Linked DNA regions of Homo sapiens. The protein of the gene in region 1 interacts with the protein of each later gene in a pairwise test. Each region holds a gene or a part of one and is shown in the gene's direction. Other genes may lie near its edges. The genes, in order: POMGNT1, CXorf66 and RXYLT1.

Region 1 (9,905 bases):
ACGTGATGGCAAAACGTGTGTTTGACACGTACTCACCTCATGAGGATGAGGCCATGGTGCTATTCCTCAACATGGTAGCGCCCGGCCGAGTGCTCATCTGCACTGTCAAGGTCAGTTATTCTGTCCTGACCCTGACCCCTACTCCCTAGCTCCAACCCTGCTTCTAGCCCCGGCTTCTCTGCCCCTCATATAACATAGTGGGAAGATTCTCTGAAGGAAGGTTACTCAGGTTCCAATCTCAGCCTTAACATTTGTATTAATTCAGCAAATAGTTATTGAGCAACAGCTGTATGCCAGGTACTTCTCTGGGTGCTGAAGATACAATGGGAAACAAGACAGAGTCCCCACCCTCATGGAGCTTATATTCCAGCAGTGGGAGGTCAACAGAAACAGCCAAGTAAATGTGGATAATGCTAGTAAATGATAACTTGTATAAAGAAGAAAATAAAGCAGGGGATAATGAATGATAGAGGGGAGGGGACATTTTAGAAAGAGAAGGCCCCTGCAAGGAGATGATATGTGAGCAGAAAGCTGAGGAATTGAGGAGTGAGCCAGGTGAGTATCTGGAGGAAGAGCATTCCAGGTGGAAAGAATGGCAAGTGCAAAGCCCCTATAGTGGGAAGGTACACGGCATATTTGAGGAACAGCAAAGATGCTAGTCGAGGTGGAGCAGAATAAGGGAGGAGAGTAGGAGAGTGGTTGGAAAAGAAGGCAGAGAGTGGCGGGAGAGAGAGGTGCAGATCGTGTGGGTTTGTGGAAAGGACTTATTAGCTGGATGACCTTAGAATCTCTAAGCCTTCAGTTATTATTTTATCTGTGAAAGAGAGTAACCATAGAGGGTTATTGCAATAATGTAATGAGCTATTTTAAGTAAAAGGTTGCTACATAGTTCGTGCTCTGTGAGGCCAGGTCTCCTGGAACCATGCCAGTCAGGCTAACTGCCTTCTCTGGTCCCCCAGGATGAGGGCTCCTTCCACCTCAAGGACACAGCCAAGGCTCTGCTGAGGAGCCTGGGCAGCCAGGCTGGCCCTGCCCTGGGCTGGAGGGACACATGGGCCTTCGTGGGACGAAAAGGAGGTGCCGGCATCAGAGGCCATCCACTCTGTAGTATCAAGAGCCTGGGAGGAGCAGAACCCTAGGAGATGGGGTGGGGTGGGGAACAAATAGGAGCCAGTGGCAGTGGGTTGGATGAAAGTAGGCAGGGAGATGGGAAAAAGCCCCCAAACTGGTGTCTGGGCCCCCATGGCCCTCATTCCTGCCTCCTGCCAGGTCCTGTCTTCGGGGAGAAACATTCTAAATCACCTGCCCTCTCTTCCTGGGGGGACCCAGTCCTGCTGAAGACAGATGTGCCATTGAGCTCAGCAGAAGGTGGAGTTAGTGGAGCATGGATGGGGCAGGGCCTGGGCTGGGGGTGGGCATTTAGATCTCTCTGTGGAGCTTTATTCCTTTGATTGTGTGCCTGGGGCTCTTCAAACCTTGCTGGCCCCATGCCTCCATGACAACCGCATCCTTCCCTCAGAGGCAGAGTGCCACTGGGCAGACACAGAGCTGAACCGTCGCCGCCGGCGCTTCTGCAGCAAAGTTGAGGGCTATGGAAGTGTATGCAGCTGCAAGGACCCCACACCCATCGAGTTCAGCCCTGACCCAGTGAGTGGGGCCTTAAGACAGTGAGGTTTGGACTCCTTCCCAGCTCAGCAGGGGGGCCCCAGGAATGATCTAGGTTGGGCTTTCCCTACCTGAGCCTGGGAGAGAACCAGGGGCAGGATTTACACTGCGCTCTGAAAGACAGGGCTGGGGTGAAGGGGCAGGCCATGTGAGTAAAGCTCAGCGCTAGAGTTGGGCTGAGTGTGTGGAGAGCCCAGAACAGGGAAGATCCTCTATCCCTTCCCTGTCTACTCCAGTCTGCACCTACCCTCACCTGAGAAGTCTTCCCTAGGTGGGGATCCCAGTTTGAAGGGGGAATAAGGCAAGAGCTAAACGCTATTTCTCCCACAGCTCCCAGACAACAAGGTCCTCAATGTGCCTGTGGCTGTCATTGCAGGGAACCGACCCAATTACCTGTACAGGTAAGCCTGGGAATGGGCTATACCCAGCACTGAACAGGAGGGTGCTTAGGTCATCTACCTCCAGGAGGAACTCTTGAGGTGGGCAGAAAGGCAATAGATTCTAGACGCATTCACCTCTGTGGGTAAGCATAGGGACTCTGGGCCCAGCTGTAAACACAGGGGAACCTGAGTTGAGGGGTGATGAAGTGACCCTAACCTATCCCTGGGCTCCCCAGGATGCTGCGCTCTCTGCTTTCAGCCCAGGGGGTGTCTCCTCAGATGATAACAGTTTTCATTGACGGCTACTATGAGGTGAGCAGGACTTGGGGGGTGCCTCGGGTGGAGTACAACATGGAGCAGCAGTGATTGCCAGGGACGGGCAAGGGAGACCGCCCAGGCAAGGGCTGTGAAATGTGAAGGCCTTGGATTGCAGAGGTGGGCAGAGGGAAAGTGACCTCACATGGTGAGCAGTGGCCATGTCCCCCAGGAACCCATGGATGTGGTGGCACTGTTTGGTCTGAGGGGCATCCAGCATACTCCCATCAGCATCAAGAATGCCCGCGTGTCTCAGGTACTGCATAGGCAAGTGGGGATGGGGCAGACACCTGGCTCTGCCTTCTACCCTAAAGCTCATGTGCCCTATTCCCACCCCACTCCCAGCACTACAAGGCCAGCCTCACTGCCACTTTCAACCTGTTTCCGGTGAGTACTAAGGATACAACTCTTGGGCCTGGGAGGGGGGAAACATGGGCATAAGGTCTGGGCCTGTTACGTGGCAAGCTCTTCCCCTCACTGGGCCTCATCCTTCACATCTGGAAAATGGGGGTAATGCTGCCTGCAAGAAGAGGGTTGGGGGCAAAGGAGATCACAGGATGGAGAGACCCCTTTGGGACCATGATGTCCCATTCCCCTTCTAGGAGGCCAAGTTTGCTGTGGTTCTGGAAGAGGACCTGGACATTGCTGTGGATTTTTTCAGGTGAGGGGAGTCTCTAGGTTTCAGTTGAGGTCCCTCAGTCTGCAGGGAAAGAGTCAGTGAGGTGTCCTAGAGAGCTTTCTGGAGGACATGAGCTCACAAGTGGGGGCGAAGCCTGGGCAAAGGTAGGATGGCAGGTGTTGGGGCTGCTGTTGAAGGTACAGTGGATGAATGGAGACAGTGGGGATTTGGGGGAAGGAGGTACTCCAGGAAGGAGGTGCTCCTGAGACCCAGCTCCAGCAATTCTAGCATCTCTGTGTGACTAGATTTATCCTTGTCCCTCCCTGAACTCTTTGACCCTGCCTCTCTCAGTTTCCTGAGCCAATCCATCCACCTACTGGAGGAGGATGACAGCCTGTACTGCATCTCTGCCTGGAATGACCAGGTAGGCTGGAATGACCAGGGTTTAGCAGGCGAGTTTATGAGGCCTCAGCTAATACCTCCCACTATGGCACCCTGTCCCCAGGGGTATGAACACACGGCTGAGGACCCAGCACTACTGTACCGTGTGGAGACCATGCCTGGGCTGGGCTGGGTGCTCAGGAGGTCCTTGTACAAGGAGGAGCTTGAGCCCAAGTGGCCTACACCGGAAAAGGTAACTGTCAGGGTAGGGTGAGGGGGCTGGAGTCCCCTACCAACTCGAAACATCTTAACCTTCATCGTGGTCCATGTCTGCCAGCTCTGGGATTGGGACATGTGGATGCGGATGCCTGAACAACGCCGGGGCCGAGAGTGCATCATCCCTGACGTTTCCCGATCCTACCACTTTGGCATCGTCGGCCTCAACATGAATGGCTACTTTCACGTGAGTGGGAGGCAGGGAGCAGGGCACAGTGTGGCATGACAGTCAAGAACAAGAACATGGACTCTGAAGCAATCTTAGCTCTGCTACTTGCTAGCCATGTAACCTTGGGGAAAGAGCTATCCTATTTTTGCCTCAGTTTCTTTATCTGAAAAATGAGGATAAAGGGCTGGGCGCGGTGGCTCACGCCTGTAATCCCAGCACTTTGGGAGGCCGATGCGGGTGGATCACAAGGTCAGGAGATCGAGACCATCCTGGCTAACATGGTGAAACCCCATCTCTACTAAAAATACAAAAAATTAGCCGGGCCTGGTGATGGGCGCCTGTAGTCCCAGCTACTTGGGAGGCTGAGGCAGGAGAATGGCGTGAACCCAGGAGGCGAAGCTTGCTGTGAGCCAAGATCACGCCACTGCACTCCAGCCTAGGTGACAGAGCGAGACTCCATCTCAAAAAAAAAGAGGATAAAATACTACTACCTCACTGGGTTACGATATTTTGAGGTTTAAATGAGTCAATATATGTAAAGTGCTTTGAATTATAAACATATATAAGGGTCAGCTGGTATTGTTTTTATTTTTACTATTTTTAGCACTAGACTGTGGGTGTCTGGGGAGAGTATTTCTGCCTCTAAGTACTGGTCCAGCCCTGCAATCTCTGCCCTTTCCTGTTTTGGCAAGTGCTGGAGCCTATGCTTCAGCCTGAGGAGAACAGGGAAGTCCTTAGGTACCGCCAACCCACCTGGCTGCATTCAGAGGACCATTCCCCAGTTACAGCAAGGGAGGCCTTGAGCCAGCCCAGCCCAAAGGAATGAATAGCGTCCAGCTTGGAACCTCCTAGAAGCCAGAGGTCCCTCAGAGGCTGACTAATACGCGAGCCCCATTCCTCTCCCAGAGAGGGGCAGGCGCTTCCCTCAGGTCACTCTCAGTACCAGAGTCAAAGTAGTTTTTTCCTTCCCAGCCCAGCCCGTCCCTTTGCCCACCACCTCCTGCAGGGCCTGTTTCTGACATCTGTGGCTCTAGAACAGCAGGCCCAGGGAGAACTACAAGAGGCAGGGACTGCTAGTTCATGGGTCTGTGGTGCAGTAGTGTGAGCTGCCGTGACAGCATGAGCTCTCCAGCAATGGTGGAGGCCAAATTAAAGCTAGTAAGAGCTTGCTGAGGATGCTGCAAAGAGGATGGAGAAGACGGTGGGAAATTAGAGGGCTCTTTACAGGTCTAGGACTTCATTTGTGTGTCTTATAGATGTCTGGCTGGTCAGCAAGTGGGTGTGGGCCAGACAATGTGAGGTGCTGATTTTCACTCTCATACCCACTCCAGGAGGCCTACTTCAAGAAGCACAAGTTCAACACGGTTCCAGGTGTCCAGCTCAGGAATGTGGACAGGTTGGGGCTGGCAGCAGGGCAAGGGGTGGATATCTAGGAGATTTGGAGGCCAGTCCCTGAAAGTCCCTTCCAATGCTGGGCCTGTGTGTTTACTCCAGCCCTGCGGCTACAGATTCCCATGTGACCCCTTGCCCTGCTCAGTGCTACCCATGGGACCTGAGGGCCTGCCCACTCCCCTGACCCATTTCTCCCTCCTCTTCAGTCTGAAGAAAGAAGCTTATGAAGTGGAAGTTCACAGGCTGCTCAGGTATGGCCTAGGACAATTGGGGTGTAGCAGGGAGCAAAGAGTCAAATACTGGGGATCTTGGCCCCATAATTTACAGGGTCCTGTGCAAAATGAAAATCAGGGCCCTCATCTCAAACATTAGGAACTTCAGGCCGGGCGCGGTGGCTCACGCCTGTAATCCCAGCACTTTGGGAGGCCGAGGTGGGTGGATCATGAGGTCAGGAGATCGAGACCATCCTGGCTAACACGGTGAAACCCTGTCTCTACTAAAAATACAAAAAATTAGCCGGGCGTGGTGGCAGGCGCCTGTAGTCCCAGCTACTTGGGAGGCTGAGGCAGGAGACTCCAGCCTGGGCGACAGAGCAAGACTCCATCTCAAAAAAAAAAAAAAAAAAAGAACTTCAAGGTGGCAACAGCAGAGCATTCAACCAAGTACAGGGTCCTGTGGGACACACCCATGAAGTGGGCCCTGTCTTGGCTATATTCTCCCACCCTCTACTGCAGTGAGGCTGAGGTTCTGGACCACAGCAAGAACCCTTGTGAAGACTCTTTCCTGCCAGACACAGAGGGCCACACCTACGTGGCCTTTATTCGAATGGAGAAAGATGATGACTTCACCACCTGGACCCAGCTTGCCAAGGTGCTCCAATACCATGCCCACCCTGGAGAACCCCTCCCCCTCACACACATACTGCCCCAAGATCCAGGGAGCCTTTGCTCTGGAATCTTCAACCTCAGAACCTCCTCTTTATACTCTTAGAACACCTCTTCCAACCTCCTTGTCCAAATTCATATTCTAAAAGATGCTATCTCTTACAAATTGAGGTGGTTTCTGAGGAGGGGTGGGGGCTGGGCCAAAGGGTCGTCAGTGACCCCTCCCTACAGCTCTCTGACCCATGTCTCTGTCTCCATCCCACCCTCACTAGTGCCTCCATATCTGGGACCTGGATGTGCGTGGCAACCATCGGGGCCTGTGGAGATTGTTTCGGAAGAAGAACCACTTCCTGATGGTGGGGGTCCCGGCTTCCCCCTACTCGTGAGTGACCCTTTTCTGCCCTGGGAAACAGGAGGCCTAGTGAGATCCAGGGATATAGCTAATGGCTTCTTCTCTATACATTCTTGTATTATTTTCCCAGAGTGAAGAAGCCACCCTCAGTCACCCCAATTTTCCTGGAGCCACCCCCAAAGGAGGAGGGAGCCCCAGGAGCCCCAGAACAGACATGAGACCTCCTCCAGGACCCTGCGGGGCTGGGTACTGTGTACCCCCAGGCTGGCTAGCCCTTCCCTCCATCCTGTAGGATTTTGTAGATGCTGGTAGGGGCTGGGGCTACCTTGTTTTTAACATGAGACTTAATTACTAACTCCAAGGGGAGGGTTCCCCTGCTCCAACACCCCGTTCCTGAGTTAAAAGTCTATTTATTTACTTCCTTGTTGGAGAAGGGCAGGAGAGTACCTGGGAATCATTACGATCCCTAGCAGCTCATCCTGCCCTTTGAATACCCTCACTTTCCAGGCCTGGCTCAGAATCTAACCTATTTATTGACTGTCCTGAGGGCCTTGAAAACAGGCCGAACCTGGAGGGCCTGGATTTCTTTTTGGGCTGGAATGCTGCCCTGAGGGTGGGGCTGGCTCTTACTCAGGAAACTGCTGTGCCCAACCCATGGACAGGCCCAGCTGGGGCCCACATGCTGACACAGACTCACTCAGAGACCCTTAGACACTGGACCAGGCCTCCTCTCAGCCTTCTCTTTGTCCAGATTTCCAAAGCTGGATAAGTTGGTCATTGATTAAAAAAGGAGAAGCCCTCTGGGGATGTCTTGTGATTGTGATTTTGTGTGTCAGGGGGGTGCTGGAGGGAAGTGGTGGAGAGAATACTTGTGTTGGATGGTGAGTTTTCCTTACTGTCCTCCACAGAGTTTATCTTCCATTTGGGGCCATTTGGCCACCAGGGGATGCCTGAGTCTCAAACTCCAAGGTTTTTCCCCAACTCTACCCTAGGACAGCTTGACTTTAGCCCCGCCCTACTTGAGGCTTGGAGCAGCCACCCTACCTCTTCCCCACCGTTTAACCACCAGCCGGGTTCCTGCTTATCTTGCCTGGGCCGGGCACCTGTCCCCAGAGACAGAGCAGGAGAGAACAAAAAGGGATACTGGGGAGTTGGAAGAGGAAATGAGAGAGCAGGTGTGCATAGTAGGGGTGGGAAGGAAGTGGATGGGACAGGACTGGGCAGGCATCATTCAAGAGACGGGCTAGGGTGCAGATGGAGATGTAGGAGCAAGGGTGTCTATGGCCCTTAGAGCACTTTGCTATTCAGAATTCTCTATCTGGGCATTTTTGTGGAGAAATGGGTCATGGTCTTCATCAGATTCTCACATAGCCAGTAACCCAAAGAGGTTAGGAAGATCTAAGTTAGTCATAGGGGCACCAGAAAATGGATGGGATTGTCCAGAGGGAGTGAATGAGAAAGCCTACGGCAGGGAAAAGAACATTTAAGGGATCTGTGAAGGGCCTAATGTCAGGAGGATGAGTGTGGAGCACCTCTTCAGAAAGGGTCTGCCTGCCTCTGTACAAGTACAGAACTCCAGCTGGAACTCCAGCCCTCCTGCCTGCTCTCTGCCCTGCCTCTTTCACAGGTGCTTGGAGCCCAACTCGGTGACAGCATGGGTGGTATGTCGCTTGGACATATCTCGCCACCCTGACGCCTTCAGTGTTTGTTGGAGCTGGATATAGTGCCTGAGGTGGCACAACAGCCAGGTTGAGCAGCAATTAGCCCATGATGAGGTAGAGGCCCGCCCTGGGCAAACAAATCCCATGCAGCCTCCACACAGGCACACGGCAGAGGAGAAGTGTGAGAGGCACAGTATGGTGGTGAAGGGGTGAGGCAGGCTAGCTCCTCCCCCTGTCCCGCACCCTAGCAGGCTCCTGGTCTGGCCCTCACAGACCAGCTCTAAGGCACTGTTTGGTTCTGGCCAGGTCCCTCTTCCTTTCTGGGCTCAGCAAGGGGGTGGTGGTTCTGGGCTGCCCTGGAAAAGCTCAGGAAGAGAGTTACAGGGGTCAAAGGGAAGTAAGGAGGGGGACTGGTTTGTTAGGCTGGGCTTTGCTTGGTAGCAGACACTGTACCCTCTTGCCATAGCCTCCCTCAGGCCTCTCACTCCTGGCTCAACAGTGATCAGGTCTATATCAGACATTCTGGCCAGCTGCCCCTTCAAGTGGAACTAGTACCATGTCAGCCAGGACTACACCAGGTGCTGGAGTTCTGGGCCCAAATCTAGGCTGAGCTCTTCACAGAAGCCTGTGGGACTGGGGCAAGTATCTTGGCCTTTCCGATCCCTAGTTTCCTACCTGGAGCATAGGGATAGTTAGGGCTAAAGAAGAGATGAGGTCTAGGTCAGGTGAGGTGGCTCACGCCTGTAATCCCAGCTCTTTGGGAGGCTGAGGCATGTGGATCACCTGAGGTCAGGAGTTCGAGACCAGCCTGGCCAACATGGTGAAACCCTGTCTCTACTAAAAATATAAAAAGTTAGCCGGGCGTGGCCGGGCACGGTGGCTCATGCCTGTAATCCCAGCACTTTGGGAGGCCGAGGTGAGTGGATCACGAGGTCAGGAGATCAAGACCATCCTGGCTAACACAGTGAAACCCCGTCTCTACTAAAAATTCAAAAAATTACCCGGGCGAGGTGGCGGGCGCCTGTAGTGCCAGCTACTCGGGAGGCTGAGGCAGGAGAATGGCGTGAACCCCAGGGGGCGGAGCCTGCAGTGAGCCGAGATCGCGCCACTGCACTCCAGCCTGGGCGACAGCGAGACTCTCTCAAAAAAAAAAAAAAAAAAACACAAAAATTAGCCGGGCATGGTGGCAGGTGCCTGTAATCCCAGCTACTCAGGAGGCTGAGGCAGGAGAACTGCTTGAACCCGGAGGCAGAGTCCGCAGTGAGCCGAGATCACACCATTGCACTCCAGCCTGGGCAACAAGAGCGAAACTCTGTCCCAAAAAAAAAAAAAAAAAAAGAAAAGAAAAGAAAAAGAGGTGAGGTCTGAAGAACACCAGGTAGGCCAGCAGCAACGAAAAAATGAAGTGCTTGCTGAGATCCCAGAAGCAGGGACAGATCTGGGGTTTTGCCTGAGTGGGAAAGGCAGGCAGCCTGGACCCTAGGAAGGGGGCTCCTGAAGGGCTTCCCAGAACCTAAGGAGTGACCCTTTCCCATTGCCCTGGTAAGAATTCGTCACAAGCTTGTTATTTTCATAGCTTTCCAGTCCAGTGCCCCTACCCAGGAGGGGGTAGTTTCAGTCCAAAGTTCTCCCCTTTATAAGGAGGCAGACTGGCCTAACCCAACTGTACTTCTTCATGCCCTCTCAGCCATCCCTCTTAGTTTCCCTCCAAGGCCTGGAACCCAAATGAAGGGGAGAAATAACCACTTCTGACCCCCAACCCCACCCTACTTCCCTCCTTTCCAGGGCCTTCTGAGTTGGCAGCCCCACAG
Region 2 (10,754 bases), on another chromosome or scaffold:
TTCTAATGAAACTTTTTTTATAGTTTCCGTTTATATTCCCAGCTTATTTTCAAAACCTCCTGGCTTTGCCACTTACTACCTGTGGGAATTTAGACATGATACTTAGCCGTTCTGGATCTCAGTAGGCTCATCTGTAAAAGGAAGATGATAATGCAATGATAGTGCCTACCCAGCTGGCCTCCACCCAAGGGATTGCCGCGAGAATTCCATGCCTGGCATACGGTGGTGCTAATATGCGCTAGTTCCTCTGAGGGACACTGCATTCCGATGAGCAAACCCTCCAACCTGAACTCCTTGTAAAGATTTAGTAAAAGTAGTCAGCTTTTGGCCGGGTGCGGTAGCTCATGCCTGTAATCCCAGCACTTTGGGAGGCCGAGGCGGGTGGATCACCTGAGGTCAGGAGTTTGAGCCTGGCCAACATGGTGAAACCCCGTCTCTACTAAAAATACAAAAATTAGCCGGGCATCATGGCCGGCGCCTGTAATCCCAGGTACTCGGGAGGCCGAAGCAAGAGAATCGCTTGAACCAGGGAGGCGAAGGTTGCAGTGAGCTGAGATCGCGCCACTGAACTCCCGCTTGGGCAACAAAGCCAGACTCTGTCGAAAGAAAAAAAGAAAGAGAGGGAGGGAGGGAGGGAGGGAGGAATTAAGGAAAGAAGGAAGGAAGGAAGGAAGGAAGGAAGGAAGGAAGGAAGGAAGGAAGGAAGGAAGGAAGGGAGAGTCAGCCTTTTTACGCGGTGGTGCGAGGGGACTTGTGTTTCCTCCTCATGTCCTTCCCACTTTTCCTCTACCCCTGGAGAAAAAAAAAAATCTGTAATCATTAGAGCCCTTTTCAAATGCAACCTTGGGTCATTAACACCTTGATGTTTGTGTTCCTTGCCCACACGATGGCAGAATAGGCAAAGAAGTGTGAAATGGATACTAGAATGTCAAAATCTCCCTTAGAGGATGGTTAAAACCTTCTAGAAAGCAACCTATTACGATTTCATTAATGTCAGTCACTGAACAAATTGAGGCTGGACGACAATTGAGATCAAACCAGCTATTCATTCTTTATGTGGTAATAACTAGAGCACATTAACAGACATATGGCATATGAGATTTAAAAATAAACGAAACATAATTTCTAGTACTACAGATGCTTCCTACATGTTCTACCTGAGAGCTCATGCATATATGTGCATGTGTGAAGACCCTGGAGGGCACGCATGTGTACACATGTTGTGAACGTATGCAAGTAAGAATACACATGCCTTTGCACTGGCAGGGAAGTCTTACTGGCTATGCACAGAGATATAAGAGGGGAAGCTGTTAACAGTCTTCTCACCAGAAATGTCCATGCCTGCAAAGAGGAGATGTATTGGTAACTGCTGGCAGGGGAACATTTAAAATTCCAGTGAACGTAGGTGTCAGATTCATTCTACCTCAGCAGCATCCCCTGTGCTACAGAGGTGTGGCTGGGGGCTGCTGTCCCGAGAACAAGTATGCTGGGTCTGGCTTTGACCCATCAATCTGAATTAATGGCTCAGGGACCTCCGTGCTATTATCCTGTTGTTTATATACACACATCACATCAATTTGTATTCGTTAGAGCCCTTCTGGTTGAAAATGACACAAAGCCAGTTCCAACCAGTGAATCAAAAAAAGGACTATATTAATACATATAATCAAACCACTAGAAGGGCAGCAATGCAGATGGCTGTAGGAAAACAGGAATTGTAACTCTCCTTGGAAGACTCTCCATCTTTCATCTTTATGTTTCTCTTTATGTCACTTTTATTCTTTGTTTATTTATTTTGAGACAGAGTCTCACTCTGTGGCCTAGGCTGGAGTGCAGTGGCGTGATCTCGGCTCACTGCAACCTCTGCCTCCTGGGTTCAAACAATTCTCCAACCTCAGCCTCCCAAGTAGCTGGGATTATAGGTGTGTGCTACCATGCCCAGCTAATTTTTGTATTTTTAGTAGAGACGGGGTTTCACCATTTTGGCCAGGCTAGTCTCGGACTCCTGAACTCAAGAGATATGCCCGCCTCAGCCTCCCAAAGTGCTGGGATTACAGGCATGAGCCACCACACCCAGCCACTTTCATCCTTTCTAATTAGCTTACTCCTGCCATCAGGGGCTGTGTCACAGGTACCTTTGGACATCTTTTCCAGGTTTACTGCGCTGGTGGTAAGGGAATTTCTCAGCCCAGATTGTTTGAAAAATCTTTGGGGAAAACTTCTGATTAGCCTGTCCTGAGTCACATGCCCAACTATAAACCAATCACTATGGTTAGAGATGGGAACCGATTACTGGTCTAGCCTGAGCCACATGCTCACCCTTGTGGCCAGGAGAGAGGGATACTATAATTGTTAGTTCTTATCAAGACCATTTGGTTGAGGTGGAAAGAAGTGGTTTTCCAAAATGATAGATTTCCTGCCCCCAAGAAGATAAAACAATTCATTATGTCTGTGAAAAAGAGAAGGAAGGACTGTAAAGTTCCATATATATGTATATATGATCAACCCTATTGATTATATTTTATGTTATTTACATATTCTACCTCCTTAATAATTTTGTGTCCACTTGATTTATCTTGAGCTGAAAGTTGTGTAGTATAACTTTGCTTCTATCTATTTGTTCTTATATCTCTTCTACTTTTTGTTTCATAAAGTTAAACACTAGAGTTGATTGGCAACCACTCACTTTCCATTTGGGGACTCTTCTGCTTCTCTTTCTGGCCCCCATTCTCAAATTCCCTTCAGTCCCTGACTCCTGATATTAACAACATAGGTATTATCTGCTGGCCTACTTTATCAACTCTCTAAAAGTGGGTACTATACCCAATAATAATAACATTTCTTGACCACTTATTTTATTTTATTTTATTCTATTTTATTTTTTTTGAGATGGAGTTTTGCTTTTGTTGCCCAGGCTGGAGTGCAATAGCGCGATCTCGGCTCACTGCAACCTCCGCCTCCTGGGTTCAAGCGATTCTCCTGCCTCAGCCTCCCGAGTAGCTGGGACTACAGGTGCCTGCCACCACACCTGGCTAATCTTTGTATTTTTAGTAGAGACGGGGTTTCACCATGCTGGCCAGGCTGGTCTCAAACTCCTGACCTCAGGTGATCCACTCTCCTTGGCCTCCCAAAGTGCTGGGATTACAGGCGTGAGCCACCGTGCCCAGCCACATGTGACTTTTTTTTTTTTTTTTTTTTACAAGGAAATGGTTTAAGCATTAGTTGTGTATTTTTTTTAAATATTTTTATTGCAGAAAATTAATATAACATAAAATTTACTATTTTAACCATTTCTGAGTGTACACTTCAGTGACATCAAGCAGATTCACATTGCTGTACAGTCATCATCACATCCATATCCAGAAGTTTTCCACCATCCCAAACTGTACCTCTGTCCCCATTAAACAATAATTCCCCGTTCCCCACTCTACCCAGCCCCTGGTAACCACCATTCTACTTTCTGTCTCTATGAATTTGACCACTCTAAGTACCCCATATAAGTGGAATCATATAATATGTGGCTTATTTCTTAGCATAATGTTTTCAGGGTTCATTCATGTTGTATTATATATTGGAATTCCCTTCCTTTTTAAGGCTAAATATTGTTCCGTTGTATGCATATACCGCATTTTGTTTACCCATTTATCTGTTGATGGACATTTAGGTTGTTTCCACCTTTTGGCTATTGCGAATAATACTGCTATGAATATCAGCATATGAATAGTTGTGTGATTTTTTTAAATCCTGAAAAGGAATATTTATAGAATGTTCCCATTTATATGTAGTATGGGTGTGCATCATGTACATAGATATGTATGTAAATATGTAGAAAGAGATCTGAGAGATGCACATCAAATTTTTGTGTCATTGTCTCCAGAATGGGGATAGAGTGGAGTGGGGAAGGAAAAGAGTCTATAACGTTTTATTCTGTATATGTCTGTCTTGTGTATTTTTCATAATGAGAATGGGTTAATATTAATATATTCCTAATGCAATTTTAAAGTGCAATTAAAAATAGAGATGAAGATTTCAGGCATCTTCACAAGCTGTGAGTAAGGAATATTTAAAGCAATTTTAAAGGGGTCAGAAGATCTCAAGGGATAAAGGAAGTCTGAAATACCTCTGTGTGATTTAAAATTTTTATAAGGTGCATATATTTTTTTAATTAAAAAAAATCAAATAAGGGGAAAAAGTTGAAGGCCCAAGGCGGAATTGCACTGTCAATTGAGGTCCAGAGGAGGGCAGTAGAAATCCCCAAGGTGGCAACCCCAGAAAGGTTCCTCTCACCCGGATGAGGGCAAAGGTTCAAACTTGCCATGTGGGTGCTGGGAAGAGCTTAGGAGCTTTTCCTACTACTGATTCCTATAGATATGACGCCAGCCAGACATTGGAAGCAAGACAATCAAATATAATGGCGGAAATCAGAAAAGTGGTACAGGTTAATCTCTGGAGAACCAAGGAGAGAGAAACCAGGAGCAGCCATTCTTCACCAAGAATCATTACACAAGGGCCCAGGAGCAGCTCTCTGGGGAAAATGACCTAGTGAGATTTTTAGGGGTCTTGGGGACACAGCCCTGTTAAGTACCTGGCTAAGTCCTTGGACCCTTCCCCTCTGCTTTTTAAAGTGGAAAAGAATAAATATGGCCCTGCAGGCTCAAGATACAGAGCTGGGATTAGGGTGAGGGGAGTGGGACAGGCTCATGCAAATGCAGAATCAGATCCTGTCTTTATTTAAATGTTCAATATTTTGTTGGTCATAGATTTTTGGCATTAATTTTGGTTTTTAAATATCACGTTAAAATCTTATTTGATTACTGAATTTTGCAACACCCCTTAAATTTTGTGCTACAGGCAAATATCTCACTGGGTTTTACTCTAGTCCTGGCAACAATCAAAACAATAACAACAACAAATATGAAGCAAGAAATGGGGTTTTATAGTGTACTTATTATATACAATTTTTATCAAAATAATACCTAGAATTTCTGAGTGAAATCTATTATTACTAACATGCTAGTCATGTAAACTTGCAAATGAAATAAAAATCATATAAATCTATGTTAAAGCCAAAGAAAGTAAAGTGTTTTTGTAACCATTATGAATATGAAGTTAATGTTCAAATTAATTTGGAAGCTGTTTCTGAAATACTGGCTTTAAGATATTTGTCTACCATGTATCCAACACTAGGGAAAAAAAAAAACCTGATTTCTTTTTTTAAAAAAGGTGACAGATACATTCTTTCACTTTATAAGCCCTATTCAAATTTTCAAAAGCAGCTTATTCAAAAGCAATAGAATAACATTTTCTGATTTTTATACAGTTAAAAAGTATGAGCAGGATTATTTAGACCTTCAGGGTAAAACTGAGTTGTATTTTTTTTTTTTTGGTTTTTTATTTTTTTTAAGATGGAGTCTTGCTCTGTCACCCAGGCTGCAGTGCAGTGGCGCCATCTAGGCTCACTGCAACCTCTGCCTCCTGGGTTCAAGTGATTGTCTTGTGTTAGCCTCCTGAGTAGCTGGGATTACAGGTGCCTGCCACTACGCCCGGCTAATTTTTGTATTTTTTTTTTTATGGTAGAGAGGGGGTTTCACAATATTGGCCAGGCTGGGGGTTTTCCAATTAATGTTTAATTTTATTATATTCCAATGGCCCCAAATGCATAATTTCAAACACTGTCACCTTTATAGGACATGTTCTTTCATTTCTTTTTTACTCTTTATTTTATTTTTTTTGAGACAGAGTCTTGCTCTGTCGCCCAGGCTGGAGTGCAGTGGCGCAATCTCGGCTCACTGCAACCTCCACCTCCCAGGTTTAAGTGATTCTCCTGCCTCAGCCTCCCAAGTGGCTGGGATTACAGGTGCCCACCACCATGCCCAGCTATTTTTGCATTTTAATAGAGACAGGGTTTTACCGTGTTGGCCAGGCTGGTCTTGAACTCCTGACCTCAAGTGATCCGCCCACCTCCGCCTCCGAAAGTGCTGGGATTACAGCTGTGAGCCACCGTGCCTTGAACCCGGGAGGTGGAGGTTGCAGAGAGCCAAGATGATGCCATTGCACTCCAGCCTGAGCCAAACTCCGTCTCAAAAAAAAAAAAAAAAAAAAAAGTCATTTGGTAAAATTTGTATACAGAAGCTTATGCTTCCCTATGGTGAGATTATGTTGTCAGAGTATGACACACAATGGTAATGATGTCATAAATGCCTAGAACACTCTGAACTGTATAAATTCAGTAGTTACCTTAGTAGACAAATCATTTGAACCAAGTTGCGGACATGAATCTTGTTATTTGTGTCCTACTTTTGTCCATTTGGAAAAATAATTGCATGACTACAAACCAAACCAATGGATCTTCTACTACAGGTAGGTGCCTAACCTTAAAACTTGTAAATTATGATCTGTTACAGTATACATTAAAGTATTTAATTAGAAACGCCAGCTGTATTTAAGAAATCTGCTGTTACTTTTAGCAGTGTTAACATTAGTAGGTCTTCAAGAATTTCTAATACAACAGCTGATATTAAAAAACTTAAGCAAAATATAAGCATCAAGATGACAGACTTATGGTCCTCCTTTACCACCCTTCCCCACTCAATATACCAACCTGTCCCCACCAAACTAGCTAATACTATATAAATGAATCTGGCAAGGGACTTAACATACAGTAGGGGTTTATTTTTGTTTTTTGTTTTTTTTACTTCAAGTTCTGGGATACATGTGCAGAACGTGCAGGTTTGTTACATAGGTATACATGTGCCATGGTGGTTTGCTGCACCTGTCAACCCATTATCTAGGTTTTAAGCCCCACATGCATTAGGTATTTGTCCTAATCCTCTCCCTCCCCTTGCCCCCAACCCCCACAACAGGCCCCAGTGTGTGATGTTCCTCTCCCTGTGTCCATGTGTTCTCATTGTTCAACTCCCACTTATGAGTGAGAAAATGAAGTGTTTGGTTTTCTGTTCCTCTGTTAGTTTGCTGAGAATGATGGTTTCCAGCTTTACCCATGTCCCTGCACAGGACATGAACTCATTCTTTTTTATGGCTGCATAGTATTCCATGGTGTATATGTGCCACATTTTCTTAAACCAGTCTATCATTGATGGGCATTTGGGTTGGTTCCAGGTCTTTGCTATTGTAAATAGTGCTGCAATAAACATACGTGTGTATGCGTCTTTACAGTAGAATGATTTATAATCCTTTGGGTATATATCCAGTAATGGGATTGCTGGGTCAAATGGTATTTCTGGTTCTAGATCCTTGAGGGATTGCCACACTGTCTTCCACAGTGGTTGAACTAATTTACACTCCAACCAACAGTGTAAAAGCGTTCCTATTTCTCCTCCCCTCATCAGCATCTGTTGTTTCCAGACTTTTTAATGATCACCATTTTAACTGGCATGAGATGGTATCTCATTGTGGTTTTGATTTGCATTTCTCTAATGACCAGTGATGATGAGCTTTTTTTCATATGTTTGTTGACCACATAAATGTCTTCTTTTGAGAAGTGTCTGTTCGTATCCTTCGCCAACTTTTTGATGGGGGTGTTTGTTTTTTCTTGTAAATTTGTTTAAGTTCCTTATAGATTCTGGATATTAGCCCTTTCTCAGATGGATAGATTGTAAAAATTTTCTCCCATTCTGTAGGTTGCGTGTTTACTCTGATGATAGTTTCTTTTGCTGTGCAGAAGCTCTTTAGTTTAATTAGATTCCATTTGTCAATTTTGGCTTTTGTTGCCATTGCTTTTGGTGTTTTAGTCATGAAGCCTTTGCCCATGCCTATGTCCTGAATGGTATTGCCTAGGTTTTCTTCTAGGGTTTTTATGGTTTTAGGTTTTACATTGAAGTCTTTAATCCATCTTGAGTTAATTTTTGAATAAGGTGTAAAAAAGGGATCCAGTTTCTGTTTTCTGCACATGGCTAGCCAGTTTTGTCAGCACCGTTTATTAAATAGGGAATCCTTTCCCCATTACTTGTTTTTGTCAGGTTTGTCAAAGATCAGATGGCTTTAAATGTGTGGTGTCATTTCTGAGGCCTCTGTTTTGTTCCTTTGGTCTATGTATCTGTTTTGGTACCAGCACCATACTGTTTTGGTTACTGTAGCCTTGTAGTATAGTTTGAAGTAAGGTAGAGTGATGCCTCCAGCTTTGTTCTTTTTGCTTAGGATTGTCTTTGCTATACAGACTCTTTTTTGGTTCCATATGAGATTTAAAGTAGTTTTTTCTAATTCTGTGAAGAAAGTCAGTGGTAGCTTGATGGGAATAGCATTGAATCTATAAATTACTTCAGGCAGTATGGCCATTTTCACGATATTGATTCTTCCTATCCATGAGCATGGAATGTTTTTCCATTTGTTTGTGACCTCTCTTATTTCCTTGAGCAGTGGTTTGTAGTTCTCCTTGAAGAGTTCCTTCACATCTCTTGTAAGTTGTATTCCTAGGTATTTTATTCTCTTTGTAGTAATTGTGAATGGGAGTTCACTTATGATTTGGCTCTCTGCTTATCTATTATTGATGTATAGGAATCCTTGTGATTTTTGGACATTGATTTTGTATCCTGAGACTTTGCTGAATTTGTTTATCAGCTTAAGGAGATTTTGGGCTAAGATGATGGGATTTTCTAAATATACAATCATGTCATCTGCAAACAGAGACAATTTGACTTTCTTTCTATTTGAATACGCTTTTATTTCTGGCCCGATTGCCCTGGCCAGAAGTTCCAATACTATGTTGAATAGGAGTGGTGAGAGGGCATCCTTGTCTTGTGCAGGTTTTCAAAGGGGATGCTTCCAGCTTTTGCCCATTCAGTATGATATTGGCTATGGGTTTGTCATAAATAGCTCTTATTATTTTGAGATATGTTCCATCAATACCTAGTTTATTGAGAGTTTTTAGCATGAAGGGGTGTTGAATTTTATCAAAGGCCTTTGCTGCATCTATTGAGATAATCATGTGGCTTTTGTAATTGGTTCTGTTTATGTGATGGATTACATTTATTGATTTACGTTTGTTGAACCAGCCTTGCATCCCAGGGATGAAGCCGACTTGATGGTGGTGGATAAGCTGTTTGATGTGCTGCTGGATTCGGTTTGCCAGTATTTTATTGAGAATTTTAGCATCAATGTTCATCAGGGATATTGACCTGAAATTTTCTTTTTTTGTTGTGTCTCTGCCAGGTTTTCATATCAGGATGACGCCGGCCTCATAAAACGAGTTAGGGAGGAGTCCCTCTTTTTCTATTATTTAAAATAGTTTCAGAAGGAATGGTACCAGCTCCTATTTGTACCTCTGGTAGAATTTGGCTGTGAATTGTCTGGTCCTGGGCTTTTTTTGGTTGGTAGGCTATTAATTACTGCCTCAATTTCAGAACTTGTTATTGGTCTATTCACAGACTTGACTTCTTCCTAGTTTAGTCTTGGGAGAATGTGTGTGTCCAGGAATTTATCCATTTCTTCTAGATTTTCTAGTTTATTTGCATAGAGGTGTTTATACTATTCTCTGATGGTAGTTTGTATTTCTGTAGGATCATTGGTGATACCCCCTTTATTATTTTTTATTGTGTCTATTTGATTCTTCTCTCTTTTCTTCTTTATTAGTCTGGCTAGTGGTCTATATATTTTATTAATGTTTTCAATAAACCAGCTCCTGGATTCATTGATTTTTTTGAAGGGTTTTTCATGTGTCTATCTCCTTCAGTTCTGCTCTGATCTTAATTATTTCCTGTCTTCTGCTAGCTTTTGAATGAGTTTGCTCTTGCTTCTCTAGTTCTTTTAATTGTGATATTAGGGTGTCAATTTCAGATCTTTTCTGCTTTCTGATGTGGGCATTTAGTGCTATAAATTTCCCACTTAACACTGTATTAGCTGTGTCCCAGAGATGCTGGTACGTTGATTCTTTGATCTCATTAGTTTCAAAGAACTTCTTTATTTCTGACTTAATTTTGTTATGTACCCAGCGGTCATTCAGGAGCAGGTTGTTCAGTTTCCATGTAGTTGTGTGGTTTTGAGTGAGTTTCTTAAACCTGAGTTCTAATTTGATTGCACTGTGATCTGAAAGACCATTCGTTATGATTTCCGTTCTTTTGCATTTGCTGAGGAGTGTTTTACTTCCAATCACGTGGTTGGTTTTAGAATAAGTGCTATGTGGTGCTGAGAAGAATGTATATTCTGTTGATTTGGGTTGGAGAGTTCTATTAGGTCCACTTGGTCCAGAGCTGAGTTCAAGTTGTGAATATCCTTGTTAATTTTCTGTCTCATTGATCTGTCTAATATTGACAGTGGGATGTTAAAGTTTCCCACTATTATTGTGTGGGAGTCTAAGTCTCTTTGTAGGTGTCTAAGAGTTTGTTGTATGAATCTGGGTGCTCCTGTATTGGGTGCATATCTATTTAGGATAGTTGGCTCTTCTTGTTGCATTGATACCTTTACCATTATGTAATGCCCTTGTTTGTCTTTTTTGATCTTTGTTGGTTTAAAGTCCGTTTTTTCAGAGGCTAGGATTGCAACCCCTGCTTTTTTTGGCTTTCCATTCACTTGGTAAATATTCCTCCATTCCTTTATTTTGAGCCTATGTGTGTCTTTTCACGTGTGATGGGTCTCCTGAATACAGCATACTGATGAGTCTTGACTCTTTATCCAATTTGCCAGTCTATGTCTTTTAATTGGAGCATTTAGACCATTTACATTGAAGGTTAATATTATTATGTGTGAAGTTGATCCTGTCATCATGATGCTAGTTGGTTATTTTGCACATTAGTTGTTGC
Region 3 (9,905 bases), on another chromosome or scaffold:
AATTTTTTAACTTGTTCTTTTTGAAATAATTTTAGACTTAACAAAAATATTGCAAAAATGGTACCAAAAAAATCCATTACACCTTTCATCCAGATTCCTCAAATGCTAACATCTTACATAATTACCGTATAATTATTTTTTTCAGGAAAATAACATTGATACAAAACTGTTATCTAATTTACAGATACACACATTCCCACTACTGTCCATTTTCTGGCCCAGTTTCCAATCCAGAATCACACGGTGTGCTTGGTTTCATATCTCTTTGGCTTCAGCCAGTCTGTGACAGTTTCTCAGTCTTTGTTGACCTTGTGACTTATGAAGAGTACTGCCCATGTATTTTGTAGAACGTCCTTTAGTTTGGGTTTGTCTGATGTTTCCTTACAGTTCAGTTCAGGTTATGTATTTTGGTTCCGAATACCTCAGAAACAACATCGTGTCATCCTCAGTGTGTCATATTTGTTCCCGTTACTGATTATGTTAACTTTGATCACTTGGCTAAGGTGCAGTCTGCCTAGTTTGTTCACTGTAAAGTTACTGTTTTTTTCCATTGTGATATTTACTAGGAGATTCTCTGGGACCATGTAGATAACCTGTTTTTCAATATGATTACAAGGTCCCACAGTATCTCCCTTTCACCCACAAATGTTAGCATCCATATAAATACCCAAAGACAAATAAAGAGATAAATGCCATTCATTGAATCAGTCATCAGCTGATTATTCATCTCTTAAATTAGGCCTCATCTTCAGAGCAAGGAGTAAAATGTTTAGTAGTCTTAAACGTTTTGATTTTAAGAAACAAAAGTAAAAGGAGCACATCATTTGAATATGATGAATTATTTTGGAACAAAGAATTAAATTGTTTGTTATATGCAAATAAATACATAAAAAACAACCAAGAAAACCTCATAAAAATCCCCAGAATCACTGGATAAAAATTTAAAAATAAAGAAAGTGCAATCCCAATAAGACTTTAATGTTGACCATTCATTAGGAAAAAAGCCTACTGCAATAGTCCTGTCGATAAAAAAAAGAAGAAATTGAGAAAATAAAAAAGCCAACTATTAGAAGAATTTAGGGCCTAAAGAAAATTATATTTCTTTTTCTTTTTCTTTTTTTTTTTTTTTTTTGTGACAGAGTCTTGCTCTGTCATCCAGGCTGGAGAGCAGTGGCACGATCTTGGCTCACTGCAACCTCCACCTCCTAGGTTCAAGCAATTCTCCTGCCTCAGCCTCCCAAGTAGCTGGGATTACAGGCACCTGCCACCATGCCCAGCTAATTTTTGTATTTTTAGTAGAAATGGGGTTTCACCATGTTGGCCAGGCTGGTCTCGAACTCCTGACCTCAGGTGATCCACCTGCCTCAGCCTCCCAAAGTGCTGGGATTACAGGCGTGAGCCACCATGCCCAGCCTCATAAATTATTTTCATACCATATAGAAAGCATAATGATAAGAATATGCATACTCTACCATGTTTATTGTTATGGAAATACAGAAGAAAGGCAATTAACTCAATCTAAGTAGAGTTAGGGGTGTGGGGCCTATCAACAAATGTTTTCTAAAGGAGGTGATAGCTGAGCAGTCTTTAAAATGAGTAGAAGTTAGCAAGGCAGAAAAAAGATTATATTCCCAGCAGAAGTGACATCAGAGGTTCATAAGTGATAAACTTGGGTTTATGCATGGAATTGCAAACCAATCAATATTCCTAGAGCATGAAGAAAAGGTAAGGTAGCTGAGATGGGGAGGATTGAGCAAGGGCCAGATCATGGTGGGCCTTGTATGTACCACATTAAGGCTCTTGGACTTTATTCTAGGGTAGTGAAAAGCAATTGAGGATGATTAAGCAGGATAGTGGTATTGTCATGTGTTTATGTGTGTAGATTTCTTTAGCAGCCATGGGGGAAAGTGATTTGAAGGAGACAGCTGGGTGCAGGCAGACCAAGTAGGAGATTGGAAGTATCCCACAGAGATAAAACTAATGGATGAAATAGGGAAGTGGTAGTGGGTCAGAGCCAGGGACAAATTTGAGAAATATTTAGGAGCAAAATGGTCGGAATTTAGGGATTAATTAGATGGGAAGATGAGAGAGGGAAACAAATCTGAGAAGTCCCTAGTTTCTAGTTTGCATGAGTAGGTAGCTAATGTGACACAAAAATAGAAAATACAGAAATAGCAAATCTGTCCACTCTTCTCTAGCCCACCACCCAACATCTACCTATCTCCTCTTTCTCAGCAGACAACCCTGCCTCCTCTTTCATCAGGAAAATTGAGGACATCATAATTATCTCTCTTAACTAGCTGCTGTAACATGTACCTACTCTCTGTCTGGTCCCTCACCCATCCTTATCTCTTTCCAAGCTCTCAAACATTGAGTGATCTTTCCTGGCTCAAGGTTAAAGCCCACCACCTGTGCATCCCACCTGCTTCTAGGACCTTGTTCCATGCATTACTTCCTTGCTTTCCTTTATTCTCCACTTCATTCATTATTGCTTTATCACCTTCTCTTCAAAACTTTCAGAATCCTTGTCTATACTCACTGTAATCACTTCCTTACTTCTCAACCCATTGCAGTTTGACTAACAAACTTTCCAACACACATATGTACATACATACATACAACCCAGGTATCTGAATCAAATGAAATTTTTTGGGCCCTTAAAGTTTCTTCTTTTAGATCTGTGGTTCCTTGACGGAGGCACTGTGGGACATCACCAAATATTTTAAATATTTATGGGAAACACTGATACTTGATATCTTTCAGGCCCTATGCAAACTGCAAGTTCAAAGCAGTACAGTTTCAACATTAGATTACCCTGCATTTATTTGAACAATATCAGGACTTTGTGAAGCTGGGTTTTCCATGGTTGCCGTGATAAAATGCACGCACTGCACAAAAATGAGTGTGGAACAGGAAATGACACTGACAGTGTCCACTGATTCCAAGGTTTGAGAAGTTCTATAGTGCTCAACAGGTGCACACATGCTATTAAATATTTGTGATTAGTTAAGAATGAAATAGGAATATGAGTTTTTCTTTCAGTGTCTGTGTATTTTTTTAAGTCACTTTTAAGCTGTTAGGACATAGATACTTATTAGGTTGTTTAGACCTAATGACTTTAAAAATTGAACTGTTAAGCATTTCTTTTAGCTTGGGAGACACTGAAAAATTTACAGGAACACTAAAGGTGCTAAGAATCTCTGACCTACACCTTGGCTTCGCAGTATTGACCCCATGGCTTTCACCATTACCAAAACACAGGGAGTTGTGGACATCCAAGACCAAGACAGTATAAATGTGCCCTTGAATGAATCATACTTCATTTTGTTAATTTGTGTGGATCACTAAAATTAGAAAGATATTCCTTTCACATGAAAGTTACATTTGAGAATAGCTTCATATATTTTATTTTAATACATTGACTAAAACCTACTTTGTTTTTCTTTTCTTTTCTTTTTTTTTTTTTTTTTTTTTTGAGACAACGTTTCATTGTTACCCAGGCTGAAGTGCAGTGGCGTGATCTCAGCTCACTGCAGCCTTGACTTCCTGGGCTCAAGTGATCCTCCTGCCTCAGCCTGCTGAGTAGCTGCACCACCATGCCCAGCTAATTTTTGTATTTTTTGTAGAGATGGGTTTTCACCATATTGTGTAGGCTGGTCTCGAACTCCTGGACTCAAGCGATCCGCCTACCTCAGTCAACTAAAGTGCTGGGATTACAGGCATGAGCCACCACACCCAGCTGTATGGCACTCTGAAATTGTTTGGGCACATGATATATATGGACTTAATGTCAAATAACCAAATTTGAGTCTGATCTGTACCATTTCCTATCTAGTGTCAGCTAGCTTTATGCAAGTCATAGAACCTCTCTCAAGATTTCCTTTTTTTTCCTTCATAAAATTGGCCTAACATGGGGAAGGAGGACTGGAAGACTTTCTCATGCTCTTAAGAATTATACCTGCTTATATTTCTAAAAGAGAAATACAAAGTATTCGTATGCTACCAATAATAAATATTTTAAACATACCATAATTATCATCATCATTGCTAGTTTTTCTAGCCCCTCAGATTCTGCATATTGTCTTAAATTACTAGGTTATCACTGAATCATTAGTCATTGCCAGTGCTAGATACTGTCCAAGGCAAACATAGTCCTCAAAACATAGTCCTGGTCCCTGTATGTTATATAATTTTAGAATAATGTCATATAAATCATATGGTACATGCACACATAGTAAAATATATTTTTACGTTTTGTGCTTTAACTAATATCTGTTTAGTATTTGTTAACCATGGAGTTATGGAAAAACTTAAGCTCTGAAGTGAGACAGAACTTTGTTGAGAACTCGTCATTGCCATTACAAGCTGACAGCTAAAGTGCAATTTCACAAATGCCAATGAGAGAATAATGAACTCCTCAGAGTTGTTGGGGGGGTTAATGATGACCCATGCAAAGTGCTTATGTATCATGTATATAAAAGGCGTTGAACAAATGTTTTTATCCCCAGCAGTAAGAAGCAATGAAAGTAGGCTTTGGGTATATTTGTGCTGAAAATTAGATTCTATCAGGATATAAAGAAATGGTTTAAGCAAGTTGTAAAGAATCTAGGATAAGAGTGACTAATTTTAAGATGAATTAAATGGTACTTGTTCTATTTAATACATACTAGTGAAAATATTTCAATGGTACTGGTTGTTCTAGGCAGCACTTAATATGAAAAAAATGAGTTATGATACATGTCTATTCCTTTAATGAAAACTTTTTAAAAATACAGTTAAAAAGAGAGTAGGCTGAGCACAGTGGCTCATACCTGTAATCCCAGCACGTTGGAAGGCCAAGGCAGGTGAATCACTTGAGGTCAGGAGTTCAAGACCAGCCTGGCCAACATGGCAAAAACCCTGTCTCTACTAAAAATACAAAAATTAGTTGGGCATGGTGGCACGCACCTGCAGTCCCAGCTACTCAGGAGCTGAGGCACAAGAATTGCTTGAACCCAGGAGGCAGAGGCTGCTGTGAGCTGAGATCATGCCACAGCACTCCAGCCTGAGCAACAGACTGAGACTCTGTCTCAAAAAAAAAAAAAATGGTAATACAACACATTCCCATTTACTCACCATTCAAAACTAACAAATTTCAGCTCTCTGTCATATTTGCTTCAGATATTTAATTTTCCTGTTAAAAAAATTAAATACTTTCAATAAGGGTAAAGCTCCCTTTGTACTGTTTTCTAGTCCCTTTCATCTTCCTTCCTCCTCAGATACAATTGCTATCATAAATTTGATGTGGATCCTCCCATTCAAATTTTTATATTTATACTGATCCTAAATATATATGTGTAAATAATTTTTATGACTGTACTTTCAAGTTTATGTATATTTTGTGAGTGTCCTAATCCTTGCTTTTTTTAACATTATATTTTTGAGATATAACATTCATGGAATGTTTATAATGCCATTCTTCGTTTCTTAATTTGTCAGCACTTTCTCATCCATTGAGTCAGATGAAGAGTGTAATAGCAGCTCACACCATAAAAGGGTTGAGAACTACTGACTTTAAATGCCTTTCTGGTTTGAACTAAACCATTATTTTACAGAGTTCCATGCTATTCAATTATATTTCTTTGCTTAAGAGTTTAAATTCTAGCCAGCATTTATTTTCAGTGTGGTTAAAACAACAACAGAAAAAAAGGTCAGGCATGGTGGTTCATGCCTGTAATCCCAGTACTTTGGGAGACTGAGGTAGGTGGATTGCTTCAGCCAAGGAGTTCAAGACCAGCATGGGCAACATGGTGAAACCCCATCTCTACAAAAAAATACGAAAAATTACCTGTGTGTAGTGGTGCACACCCGTAGTCCCAGCTACTCGGGAGGCTGAGGTGGGAGGATCACCTGAGCCAGGGAAGTTGAGGCTGCAGTGAGCCAAGATTGCACCACTGCACTCCAGCCTGGGCCACAAGAGTTGAGACCCTGCCTCAAAAAAAAAACAAAAAAACACAAAACTATCACATTTTGTATTATCATATGCAAATTGATCTGCCTACAGCCAAAGCTTACCATTAATCTACAGCTATGCCCCATCATTCAAACTTGTTCAAAAGATTGTATTATAGAAATTTTACTTCTAGATAGAATGTGGATTAAATCTCATTGTAGATTTTGTATAAAATGATGAATTTCTGATACCACATACCTTTGTTCAGGCTTTGTTTGTCTCTTGTTTTTGTTGTGTTGTTTTTAACAGCTTCATCACTGGTCCAGCTGTAATACCAGGGTACTTCTCCGTTGATGTGAATAATGTGGTACTCATTTTAAATGGAAGAGAAAAAGCAAAGATCTTTTATGCCACCCAGTGGTTACTTTATGCACAAAATTTAGTGCAAATTCAAAAACTCCAGCATCTTGCTGTTGTTTTGCTCGGAAATGAACATTGTGATAATGAGTGGATAAACCCATTCCTCAAAAGAAATGGAGGCTTCGTGGAGCTGCTTTTCATAATATATGACAGCCCCTGGATTAATGACGTGGATGTTTTTCAGTGGCCTTTAGGAGTAGCAACGTAAGTACAAAATATGATTAAACATTTTTAGGCCCTAACACCTGAATTTCTGAACCAGGAAGACTTATTCAAAATTGTAATAAATTTAGTTCTTCTGGGATTATTGAGGCCAGGTACAGTCTTTCTCAGAGATAAAAACAGGGTGTGGTCGCATCCTTCAATAACAATTATGATGTTTTTAAGAGTATTTTATTCTTTAATGAGGAGATGAGTTACTTTTTTTCTTTTAAAACCCCAAGGCATAGAATGGATTTTTCAAGCTTATTAGGAGTGCCATAAAAATATATTTAGCAGAGAAATGGCAGATAGATTTTTTTAAAAACAATGATAGTATCTATATATAGTAAAAAAAGGCAATATTATTATATCAGGAATATACCGTACCATTGTGTTTGAGACTGGCTGAATTTATACAAATCTCTTCTATAAAAGGAGGGATTAATTAAATGATAGCTAAGGTTTCTCAAGATACAGTCTTTTAGGCCAGGCGCAGTGGCTTACTGCCTGTAATCCCAGCACTTTGGGAGGCCAACTAGGCAGATTGCTCGAGTCCAGGAGTTCAAGAGCATCCTGGGCAACATGGCAAAACCCTATCTCTAAAAAAAAAAAAAATCAAAAATTATCCGGGCATGGTGACATGGACTCCTGTATGGCGCCTCTAGTCCTAGCTACTCATGAGGTTGAGGTGGGAGGATCACTTAAGCCCAGGAGATTGAGCTGAGATTGTACCACTGCACTCTAGCCTGGGCAACAGAGTGAGATGAGACTGTCTCACCAAAAAAAAAAAAAAAAAAAAAAAAAAAAAAGATATAGTCTTTCTCCAGCTATAAAATGGAAAACATATATTTTTATCTTTCTGTTAATAGGATGTTTTTAATTAAGAGCAAGTTGACTTTAAGATAAGTTGCCACTAGTATATAAACCTCCTGAGAGCAGGGATTTTTGTCTCTTTTGTTCACTGTTCTATCCACAGAGCCTAAAACAGCACCTGCAGAGTAGGTATTCTGTATTTGTTGAGTGGATAAATTATGAAAAATCTCACTGACATGATTTTTGAATCATACATTCATTATTCATCATTCTGTCCCTGGTTGCGGGATGTGGCCTTAGACTGCTGCCTAGTTAGCGACACAGATGTCACTGGCACATCTGTGCCAGTAATGAGATGTATTCCCAAGCCTACTCCTATAACACCCTAACTCAGTAGGTTTGGGGTAAGGCCAGACAAAAAGGTTCTTGTTAAGTAAAGCCAGGTTTAAGACCCTCTTAAAAATCTATTTTTTGAGCAGAGCCTGCATTTGTAAAATGTTTTCATATAGTATAAGATGGAACCTCTTGGTAATCATGATGTTGTTGCACTAGGCCAGTATATTTCTTATATAGGTCTGTGGTTCTCAACCAGGGGCAATTTTGCCCACCGGGAGGCATTTGGCAGTGTCTGGAGACTTTTTTTTTTTTTTTTTTTTGAGACGAAGTCTTGCTCTGTCACCCCAGCTGGAGTTCAGTGGCACGATCTTGGCTCTCTGCAACCTCTGCCTCCCAGGTTCTAGCCATTCTCCTGCCTCAGCCTCCCAAGTAGCTGGGATTACAGGTGGGCATCACCACTCCTGGCTAATTTTGTATTTTTTATAGAGAGGGGGTTTCGCCATGTTGGCCAGGCTGGTCTCAAATTCCTGACCTCAAGTGATCTGCCTGCCTTGGACTCCCACAGTGCTGAGATTATAGGCATGAGCCACTGTGCCTGGCCTGGAGACGTTTTTGATTGTCACAACTGGAGGAAAGAGGTTGTCACAACTGGTATCTAGCAGATAGAGCCCAGGGATACAGCTGAACACCCCACAATGTATAGGACAGCCTCCACAAGAAAAAATTAACCCAAAATGTCAGTAATGCTGAGGCTAAGAAACCCTGTTATATACAAACTGTTAGGTAAAATTTTGTTCTCGTGTGAAAGTTACATTTCAGGTACACAGTTTAATCCCTGGTATTTCCAAATGCTCATAAAAATAGGTAACTTTTCCTGTATGGCATACCATGGTTTTATCTGTCAGTTTGTTTTAATCTACTTGAAAAGCCCTTGGGATTAATTTTTCAGAGCCCTTTGCAATAGCAAAATATATAATCTTTCCTTTTTTTTAATTGACAAATAGTAATGGTATATGATAATGGGGTACAAATGATGTTTTGAAATATATTTACAACGTAGAATGCTTAAATCAGACTAACAAATCCGTAACCTTATATACTTAACAATTTTTGTGGTAAAAACATAACATCTGCTGTTTTAGCAATTTTGAAATATACAGTGCATTATTATTTATTATAGTCACCCTATTCTGTGTGATAGATCACTAAAGCTTATTCCTCCTGTCCAACTGAAACTTCATACCCTTCGATCAACATCTTCCTTTTCCCCATCCATCTCCCTCCCCTGGAGTATTCTGTAATCTTTTCATCACCTGGTTAAAATGTTGCTTAAATCGTGATCATTATGAATAGAGAAGAGTCTTTATACTTTGAAGGTTTTGAATGTAACATGCCTAACAGCTGCAGATGAGTAATGCAAGTTAAAGAATGTCAAAAACAAATAACTTTAGGCACAACATCTCTGTAACACTTTTGTAAGAGATGTCAGTGTGAAATTCAATTTTTTTAAGTCAGTAGATTCAGGGAGTTTTCCAAAGTATTCATGGAAAATTACAATTTGAGATTTAGAAATCACATTTTAAACCTCTTCTGTATACTTCTTGCTACCTAAGAGATTGGGTTATGGGGAATTTTTGCCAATTCTATATCATATGTTAATTCATGTGTATTTATTTTTATAGATACAGGAATTTTCCTGTGGTGGAGGCAAGTTGGTCAATGCTGCATGATGAGAGGCCATATTTATGTAATTTCTTAGGAACGATTTATGAAAATTCATCCAGACAGGCACTAATGAACATTTTGAAAAAAGATGGGAACGATAAGCTTTGTTGGGTTTCAGCAAGAGAACAGTAAGTTCTATGCTTATTTAATTCATTCATTTTGTTCTCCAGTCTGAGAGTTGCTTTATGTAGAAACACAGGTTTCCAAAGAGGCATTGTTAACTCTATTTGTACCAATCTTTCCCCAGAAGATACATTAGTAATTAAAACTGTGAAAAGACTGGGTTGTACACATTTAGAATAGAGAGAACCGCCTATGACTGTAGTCCATCTTGAAGAGGAACACTGGTAACTGTCATTTGCAAATTTCAGTTGTTAGGGTTTCCTCAATAATATTTGTTAGTCACACAGGAGATTATAGATGCTAATGAGATACTTAGGTTCATCACTGAGATGTTGTGCAGTGGACCAATTCAGTG

What was found.
Region 2: the proteins of POMGNT1 (region 1) and CXorf66 interact in binary tests that used the Homo sapiens proteins (3 or more experiments, as listed by UniProt).
Region 3: the proteins of POMGNT1 (region 1) and RXYLT1 interact in binary tests that used the Homo sapiens proteins (3 or more experiments, as listed by UniProt).

What each region holds. Positions count from the first base shown.
Region 1 is NC_000001.11:46,186,016-46,195,920, reverse strand, and holds the end of POMGNT1 (protein O-linked-mannose beta-1,2-N-acetylglucosaminyltransferase 1), read left to right. Parts: coding exon 1-110; intron 111-959; coding exon 960-1,077; intron 1,078-1,269; coding exon 1,270-1,368; intron 1,369-1,519; coding exon 1,520-1,647; intron 1,648-1,995; coding exon 1,996-2,066; intron 2,067-2,281; coding exon 2,282-2,357; intron 2,358-2,532; coding exon 2,533-2,616; intron 2,617-2,705; coding exon 2,706-2,747; intron 2,748-2,962; coding exon 2,963-3,021; intron 3,022-3,330; coding exon 3,331-3,403; intron 3,404-3,484; coding exon 3,485-3,613; intron 3,614-3,697; coding exon 3,698-3,823; intron 3,824-5,136; coding exon 5,137-5,201; intron 5,202-5,403; coding exon 5,404-5,448; intron 5,449-5,931; coding exon 5,932-6,067; intron 6,068-6,353; coding exon 6,354-6,463; intron 6,464-6,563; coding exon 6,564-6,651; coding exon of another isoform or gene 6,652-6,679; 3' UTR 6,680-6,940; coding exon of another isoform or gene 6,941-7,202; 3' UTR 7,203-7,238; downstream 7,239-9,905. UniProt on the Homo sapiens protein: Participates in O-mannosyl glycosylation by catalyzing the addition of N-acetylglucosamine to O-linked mannose on glycoproteins.
Region 2 is NC_000023.11:139,961,015-139,971,768, reverse strand, and holds the start of CXorf66 (uncharacterized protein CXorf66 precursor), read left to right. Parts: upstream 1-6,247; 5' UTR 6,248-6,272; coding exon 6,273-6,360; intron 6,361-10,754.
Region 3 is NC_000012.12:63,795,850-63,805,754, forward strand, and holds part of RXYLT1 (ribitol-5-phosphate xylosyltransferase 1), read left to right. Parts: intron 1-6,241; coding exon 6,242-6,556; intron 6,557-9,384; coding exon 9,385-9,555; intron 9,556-9,905. UniProt on the Homo sapiens protein: Acts as a UDP-D-xylose:ribitol-5-phosphate beta1,4-xylosyltransferase, which catalyzes the transfer of UDP-D-xylose to ribitol 5-phosphate (Rbo5P) to form the Xylbeta1-4Rbo5P linkage on O-mannosyl glycan.